Linked DNA regions of Homo sapiens: region 1 is reported to be linked to region 2. The links are microRNA targets in miRTarBase. Many come from high-throughput screens and were not tested one by one. Region 2 holds a microRNA gene; the other region holds the end of a gene's coding sequence. Distances are from middle to middle.
Evidence for each region. The annotated mature microRNA hsa-miR-548f-5p reads UGCAAAAGUAAUCACAGUUUUU and lies in region 2 at 2,631-2,652, opposite strand. An mRNA with a match to its seed (bases 2 to 7 or 8) in the 3' UTR can be bound and repressed. Matches are read on the target gene's strand: a 7mer-m8 pairs with bases 2 to 8, a 7mer-A1 pairs with bases 2 to 7 and ends in A, and an 8mer does both.

Region 1: the mRNA of ARHGAP12 is a reported target of hsa-miR-548f-5p. Seed matches in the 3' UTR shown: 7mer-A1 at 877-883.

What each region holds. Positions count from the first base shown.
Region 1 is chr10:31,804,420-31,808,430 of GRCh38, reverse strand. ARHGAP12 (Rho GTPase activating protein 12) reads left to right here. Exons shown (of 20, transcript NM_018287.7): 20 at 599-3,033. The coding sequence ends at 773. Among named protein-coding and RNA genes, the nearest start is that of MACORIS, 99 kb to the right of the region's middle.
Region 2 is chr10:54,605,296-54,609,446 of GRCh38, forward strand. MIR548F1 (microRNA 548f-1) reads right to left here and starts at 2,662; the gene lies at 2,579-2,662. All of the region lies in intron 2 of PCDH15 (protocadherin related 15), which reads right to left. It overlaps LOC105378311 (a long non-coding RNA gene), which reads left to right. Exons shown (of 6, transcript NR_134503.1): 3 at 397-1,690.

The DNA.
Region 1 (4,011 bases), 23 Mb from region 2:
TTATGTAATGCTTAGCACATAGTAGGTGTTCAGAAATTGTTGCTAAGGTTAATATGAAGATGAGATTGGATATTAATTGAGGTGTATTAAGTTACCGTCATGGTTCTAGGTTACTACATAGCCACTTTAATAACCAAGTTCTTTCATCTGATAGAAAGTACACTAGAATACTAAAACAAAAAATCCCAGCTAGAGAGAGTTTTTTTTTTTTAAAGAAATTACATAAAATGAGTAAAATGGAAAGTTTAATCTCCACACCCTAATGAGATTTTTTTCCCATCAACTTAATGGAGCAGTCACTGTTACCTGAATTGTAACTCATACTTAAATGTTCTATTTTAAAAACTAAGCTAAAATATCACACATTTTAAGTTTGTTAGAGTATGCTTAATTGTATCTTTCAGCTGTGTTTATCAAAAAGAAAGCTTCACATGGCATTTAGACAGAATTCTACTTGGTTAAATAGTTTATGCATCACCTTAGGAAAATAAGTATTACTTCTCTTTTTAAAATGCAAACTGTTAGGTTTATAATACCATTTGAAGAATTTTCCCTCTCTCTTATTTTCTCTTTTAACAACTTCTTTTTTTCCCTTCAGAGTTATAGAAAATGGAGAGAAAAATCGAATGACCTATCAGAGTATAGCAATTGTTTTTGGTCCCACTCTATTAAAACCAGAAAAAGAGACTGGTAATATAGCAGTTCATACTGTGTACCAGAATCAGATTGTAGAATTAATTCTTCTGGAACTGAGTTCCATCTTCGGACGTTGATTCTTACTGAAGACAACCTGTGGAATAGAAGCTGGATTCCATCAGATTTCAAATGTTTATACACAATGTATTTTATTTTTTGGACCAAGCAGTGACTCTTTGATTTTGCACTTTTTTTTTGAGGGATCAGAAGGGAAGGGGAGAGTCGAGATGTGTGTTAGGCCCTCATATTTGCTGCTTTGTTGCAAGTTGATATAACTGCGTGTAATTATGAATTCATTTTATCCTGAATGTTTGCATTTCATACTCTGAATTTCAGTAAAAATCAAAACTTAAAATTCTAACCAGTCATATACACTGGATAATTTGGTAAGAAAACTGTATTTTTTTTCCCTGAAATTGGATAATGTACTTTCTTCTCAAGATTCATGACTTGATAGAACAATACTTTCAGTTATGTTGCAAAGGCTCTTGGGCATTTTAAACAAAATGAAGTATATCCATTTTGAAACCTGTGTATTTCTTTTTCGGGGTTTCTGCATGCAGTGGCAGTCTTAAGTGCCAAAATTCATTATAACCCCAAAATAACCCCTTGATGAAGGCTTGCTGTCTTTTACTGTGTTACACAGCATCCTTACTGGATATCTTAGTTGCTTGTTTGGGCAGCACACTAATATTACTTAAAACACTGTGATATACTGGAGTTTTAGTTAGCGGAAGTCAGTTCAGGGCATTTTAGGGCTGTCTTGCTATACTGAATTGTAGCTAACAATCCTAATTATATCTAGTACCATACTGAGTTATTGGTATGACCCTGTGGAAACACACATTATTTTATGTAAATATAGGCTAAAGACTTAATGTCCTTTAGCTTGTGTATATAATTGTGTTGTATAGTCTCAGAGTACATTCTAACCCTACATTTCTAATCATTGTTATTGGTAATCTTTTCTGTGAATATTAGGTTTCCTCCAGAAATAGTCCGTTATTTGGGAAAGTTAACTGTGTGCACTTTTAGATATTAACTACATTTACAGGCAAATCACTGTAATGAGAATGGTACTGGAAAAATACTGAATAGACTTGCTAAATGGCACATGCACTACAAGAGGAACCTTTTGGGTTATTTAATATGTACAGAAAACATTAGAAAAAATTTATTACAGAATTCTAATTCCAGTATGAATAGTGGAAACCCATCTGTAAATTAGATGGATGTTGGATGGAAAATGACATTGCTAAATTTGAGAATTTCTTTTTACCTACTAATGTAGATTGCTTTGTATAATAAAACACAGGGTTTGGAAGGTTTTGTTACAGGGAGCATGGTCTGTTGAAGATTTTTAAAATGTATTTTTCTAGATTAACTTCTGTACATGAAATGTCTAATAAAACTATAAGAGGTTTAGAGATTTTTCCATTGGAAATGTGCATTTTGGTTTCTAATTTTTTTGTTTTTTCATTTACTGGCATACTGTTATACCTCATTTTTAAAAATCAACTGAATCCAATATTTCCTGTGGCAAATAACACTTTCCTCATTTCATACCTTTTCTCCTCTCTTCCATGCCAACATTTCTCCACCCACAACGTACACTTTTTATTTCTCCATCAATATTTGAAAGCGAGTGATTTGTGACCAGGATTTTTTTTTCTTAGGGTTGCATTTATAATTTACAGATTGCCTTCCTTGGGAACAAGTATTTTTTTGTATGATCTGTCTAAAAACCTCTCACCTGAATTTTGTGGTAGAAAGTCTGTATTTGTTGTTGTGAGCGTGTTAAATTGATAACAAACCAAACTACTTGATAGCTAAAGCAGATTGTTTCGGGTGGGGAGAAAAAGCCCTAAATCAGAATGTTTATATTTGCCTAAAGATGTCCTTAATAATACAATATGCTTTAGATCTTGCTTATTTAGTGATTGTATACCAGGAAAACAATTAGACTCAAATCAGTGATGTTCTTGTTCTTGGTGTTCATGAACATATATCAAAGATTAAAATTGTCCTGTGTTTCTTGTTTCAAGGTACGTGTGTGTGTGTGTGTGTGTGTGTGTGTGTGTGTGTGAAGTCTTAAATGTTTTATTAGTCTACAGCTAATCAGTTTATTGTAATATTGTATGTACAGTGAGATTAATGTCTTGCGTTTTCATCCTTTGTGAATTAAAAATTCTCACTTGTTTTGTAATAACAAAGCTAGTAATATTTTCCTGTCTTGACAGCTTGGTTTTATAGTAGAAAATATATTAAAAGCTGAAATAAATTATCAGTGGAATTTTATTTGTTAGTAAGTCTTCCTTCATAATGTCATTGAAAAAGGTAGTTGCAGATTTAGAAAAGAAAGTATATTTAAATACATTGTCACATTCCAATTAGAAGAAAAACACTTATTTAAATTTTATAGAAATAAGAAATTTTACCCTTTACTCTGGAGAAAGTACGTTAATTATTAAATAATCTCCAAAAAATGATGTTTATATTTTAGATAGAGACAAATCTATAAATTGTTTTTATGTGAAAAGCACAAATGAAATAATTTGGTGAAACTTTGGACTTAGTGGTAGATGGGTTGTGCGTTTATAACATACACACAAACGTGTGTGTGTGCTAAGTGTTTGTGCACGCCGTTGCTTACATACAAGTGAAAACTCACCAATAATGCAGATACATGGAGACCTTTTTACTATTTCAGTTTCATTCCACGCTTCTTTGCAAGCCCACAATATTGAACATTAAGATAGCAGTGGGCTGGGCGCAGTGGCTCACGCCTGTAATCCCAGCACTTTGGGAGGCCAAGGCAGGTGAATCATTTGAGGTCAAGGGTTCGAGACCAGGCTGGCCAACATGGTGAAACCCTGTCTCTACTAAAAATTCAAAAAAATTAGCCGGGCATGGTGGCAGGCGCCTGTAATCCCAGCTACTCGGAGGCTGAGTCAGGAGAATCACTTGAACCCAGGAGGTGGAGGTTGCAGTCAGCCGAGATCGCACCACTGCACTGCAGCCTGGGTAACTGTGAGACTCCGTCTCAAAAAAAAAAAAAAAAGACAGCAGTGAAGGGAAAATAGTTATTCCATAATTGTGCCAAGAGATTTTTTCCAGCTCATGGGAGAGGCTTCTAATTAAATACTTAAACATGTAGTTTCCCATGACTCGAATTCCTCAAAGATCTTTAGGCATTTTTAAAGAAATACACAGAGGAGTCCACAACACATCTTTTTAGTAAAGAAGAAAATAAAAATAGTCAAGTGGGCGCCACGCTCTCACTAGTCTAATAAAAGTCAAATGTTCAAATATTGC
Region 2 (4,151 bases):
ACTCCCTTTAGCATTTTTTATATGACAAGTCTAGTGGCAATAAACTCCCTCAGCTTTCGATTTTTTTAATTTTGTCTTAAGTTTTAAAGGATAATTTTCTGGGTATACTGTTTTGATTGGCAGTTGTGTATTTGTTTGTTTGTTTCCGCATTTTAAATGTATCATCCAACTCCCTTCTGGCCTCCAAAGTTTCTGCTGAAAATCCACCAATGATCATAGGAGGGTTCCCTAACACATAACAAGTTGTTTTTCTTTTGCTGCTTTCAGTGGTCTCTGGGTGTCCAGAGTATGCCAGCTCTCATCATTGCCCTGAAACAGGTGAGATACTGATCCTTTTTAGTAGTAACCATAAATGTTGGGGCACTAACTGGATTTTCCAATTTCTTCTCTCCTCAGGGAAAAGCTGGGTGTATAATCTGCTCATGCTGAACTGAGCTGGGGAAAAGAACTATGGCAAATGTTTGCAAGCTCATTCAAACCACAGACTTTTTCAAACTGTTGCTTTGATCTCTGTAGCCTCCATGGGCCTAATGGATGCTGATCTCCATTAGTTCTCATAGACACGTCAGTTGAAAGCTAGTTCCTCAGGTAGCAGCTGGAAAAGTTAAGGGGATAGATATGTAGATAAATTCCTTCCAGACTGAAGCTAGAGGCTTGCTTTTATCATTAGAGTGAGCAAGTGGGAGAATTTGTGGAAATATCCACATGCCTGTTTAAAATGGCTGCTTTGTTTTCTATAGCCCACATGTAAATAGTGAATGGCAACACCAATAGCTCTCATAGACAGTGAGTTAGAAGCCAGACCTCAGGTAGGAGCTAGAAAACTTAGAATGCTTGATTTGTAGTCTAACTTCTTTCATAGAGAATCTGGGAACTGGGCTTTGTTGTTGTAGCTAGTTGGTGAATGAGGAGGTGAAGTGGAGGAGATATGGGAAGAACCCATTTGTTTGGGCATTTTTTCTCAATGTACCTTAGTTTGTCTGTAGTAGCTGGCCACAGTAGTGATGATTCTATTTCCTGAGAGGTGAGAATTGCTGCCAAAGAATGTCTGCCATGGATGAGAATACAAAGAAAGGAAACTAAGAACTCTCAAAGCAGCTACTAGAAACCCTTCATAGAGGACAAGAATTATCTTCAGTTTTGAGATATATGAGAATGATTACAACTCCTTTGAGCAGGCTTCACATACTGCCCAAAGATGCTTCTCTAGTTTGTGTCCTTCTTGCTATCAGAAAGAGAGAAGGAAACTAAATAAAACAAAATAAAAATTTTAGAATTTTGTGCTGTCTTGGACATGGAAGCAATGGGTCAGGATCAAGATTGTGGAAAGATGCCAGTTCGGATGCAGGCTAGAAAAATTAGTATTGTCCTCAACTGGAATCAGCAACCAAAAGACTAAGTGTATGTGTCTCTGTAGGCTGAAGGGTTTTCAGATATCATAAAAGATAAGAAGTCAAGCTACACTTGTTTGGAAGCATGTGGCAGAGAACACAGATTAATTGTTTAAAGGATGGCCCAAACTTAAGGCCAAGTCACATCAAACCCATCAGAAACCAAAAGTGTGGCAGAATTCCTAACAGAAGGATGAGAGAGGAAGAGCCTTATATAGATCTGTCTTCTGTTTCACATTCTGACTATTCTAAAGCTTTTAATGAAGAATTCCCTAGAGTCATAAAACAAAGGCTAAATGGTGAGTGGCTGCAAATACACATAAAAATATAGTGAATTTTTTGAAAAGATATACTAATTTCAGGTGGCTAGAAAGATTTATTAACATAAGTAATAAAGGTCTTTTAGTTGTCAAAGTAACTTATACTTAATATTTATTGCAATTTTAAAAAATTAAAATGCTAAAAATTATTTGTGAAAATGAGTTGTTTTATATGTTTACATTTAATAACAATACTTTTTACATAAAGAAAATACAATAATTAAATATATCTGAACTAGTCAAAAGATAATTATAAGATTTAAAATTGAGTTTATGTGCAATAAATGTGGTAAACAATAATGTGATATAAAATCTTCTAAATTTAATAATATTCTTGGTAGAGGATTCTGGGGCAAAAATATGATTTTCTCCATATCCCTGCCCACTACCCAATATATGATAACATGTGGCATTATTAAATATGGAAAAATATTAAAGAATGGCAGTAGACTAGAGAGAAGAGAAGGAAAGGCATACAGGAAATCCAGGTCCCTGCCCTCAGAGACCTCTCAATTCCTGGCATATGTTTATGTTTTGAACATTATGCAAATTTGTCTGCATGACAAATTTATTCTTGTTTCAGGTTAAGAGTAGAAATCAACCCATAGTCCTTACGATTAGAATTGCCTTAGCATAACGATTCAATCAGTAAGAAAATATAATAGACTAGAGGGTAATGGAGATTTTAAAATTTATATTATCTTAATATATTTATTAGAAAAAATATTAGATTGCTCAATAAATCAATGGTAACTTTAAGGCTTTTACTGTCTACTACAAAGAATTTTTATAGATATATGAAGAATGATGGTAAGGAAGAGATATGATGCCATGAGGCCTACTGTGAGCAAGACACTGCTAATCAGGCTATTAGGTTGGTCCAAAAGTAATTACAGTTTTTGTCTTTGAAAGTAATGTCAAAAACTGTGATTACTTTTGCACCAACCTAATACTTCCGCACTTTGGAAAGGCTTTGCCTACATCATTTTGGTTATTGTGAGAAGACTTGCACACATAAGGAATTTTTCAAAATAATATTTTAACTTGAAATACTTTTCTTTGACAAATACAGTAAAAGTGATAGAGCCAAAAAGAGGACTAGGCATAGCCCTGAGGGGATTTCCGAGCAAAAAAATCCCAGGGGATTTGTATGCAAACACTTCGCTCAATAAAAGGAGAGGCCAGGTGTGGTGGCTCACAACTGTAATCCCAGCACTGTGGGAGGCCGAGGTGGCTGGATTGCTTGAGCCCAGGAGTTTAGGACGAGCATGGGCAACATGACAAAAACTTATCTCTACCAAAAAAAAAAAAGAAAAAATAGCGGACATGGTGGGGTACACCTATAGTCCAGCCACTTAGAGAGGCTGATGTGGGAGAAACGCTTCAACTCGGGAGTTTGAGACCCGCCTGGGCAGTTTAGTGAAACCTCATCACTACAGATAATAATAATAATAATTATCTGGGTGTGGTGACACACGCCTATAGTTTCAGCTACTCTGGAGGCTGAGGTGGGCGGATAGATTGAACCCAGGATATCTAGGCTGCAGTGATCTGTGATCATGCCACTGCACTCCAGCCTGGGTGACAGAGACCCTCTCTTAACAAAATAAAAAATACAAAAAGGAGAAAGTCATCAAACAAAATGATGTGACTTAGTCTGGTAATATTCGTCAAGAAGTCAAGATTTATGCTCTCTTACAATTCTGACTTTCACATTGAATTAAATTAAGGGTGTCTTGGCTTGTTTAGTGTAGTTTAGTAAAATACAGTCATTTGTTTTCCACAGCTATTATATTATTCTCCATTAAAAAAAGAAGAAGAAGAAGAAATGAGAAAAAAAAATCAGTCCCTAGCTAGAAATTTTAAGAGTCAATAACATTTGGGAAATGAAAATATATTCTGAAGTAGTATAATCATACCCAAATTTTTAGACTCTGTACTCAATCTATAAGATGTATGTGAGCAAAATATTATTAGAAGCAACATGAATGATAATCACGCACTACAAGCGCACGAATAATGTTTCCCTGAAAGGTACAATAAAAAATTATTCAATGTGAAACAAAACGTTGACTGCAACAATTATTAAAATTTGACTATTGAATTGTCAGTATACTCAATTATGAAGACATTTGGAAAATATAAATGAGCACTACTGTTTTTGCTCATTTTTTAAAAATGAAAATTTTTGGTAATGTCTGACCTGAAGGCAGATATTCATTATAATAGTCAAATATCATAAATACATTTCAAATGTTATGTATTCTACATAAATTACTCAGGAGAGGAACATGTAGGCTCATAAACTTGCACACAAGTAAAGGAATGTTTCTTAGGAAAAAATTCTGTGTTAAAGATATTCCACACCAATGTCTCAGGAAAAGGCATTTGTAGTATACTGCTCCATTACCTATGCTTCATAAAAAATGCAGCTATCTAA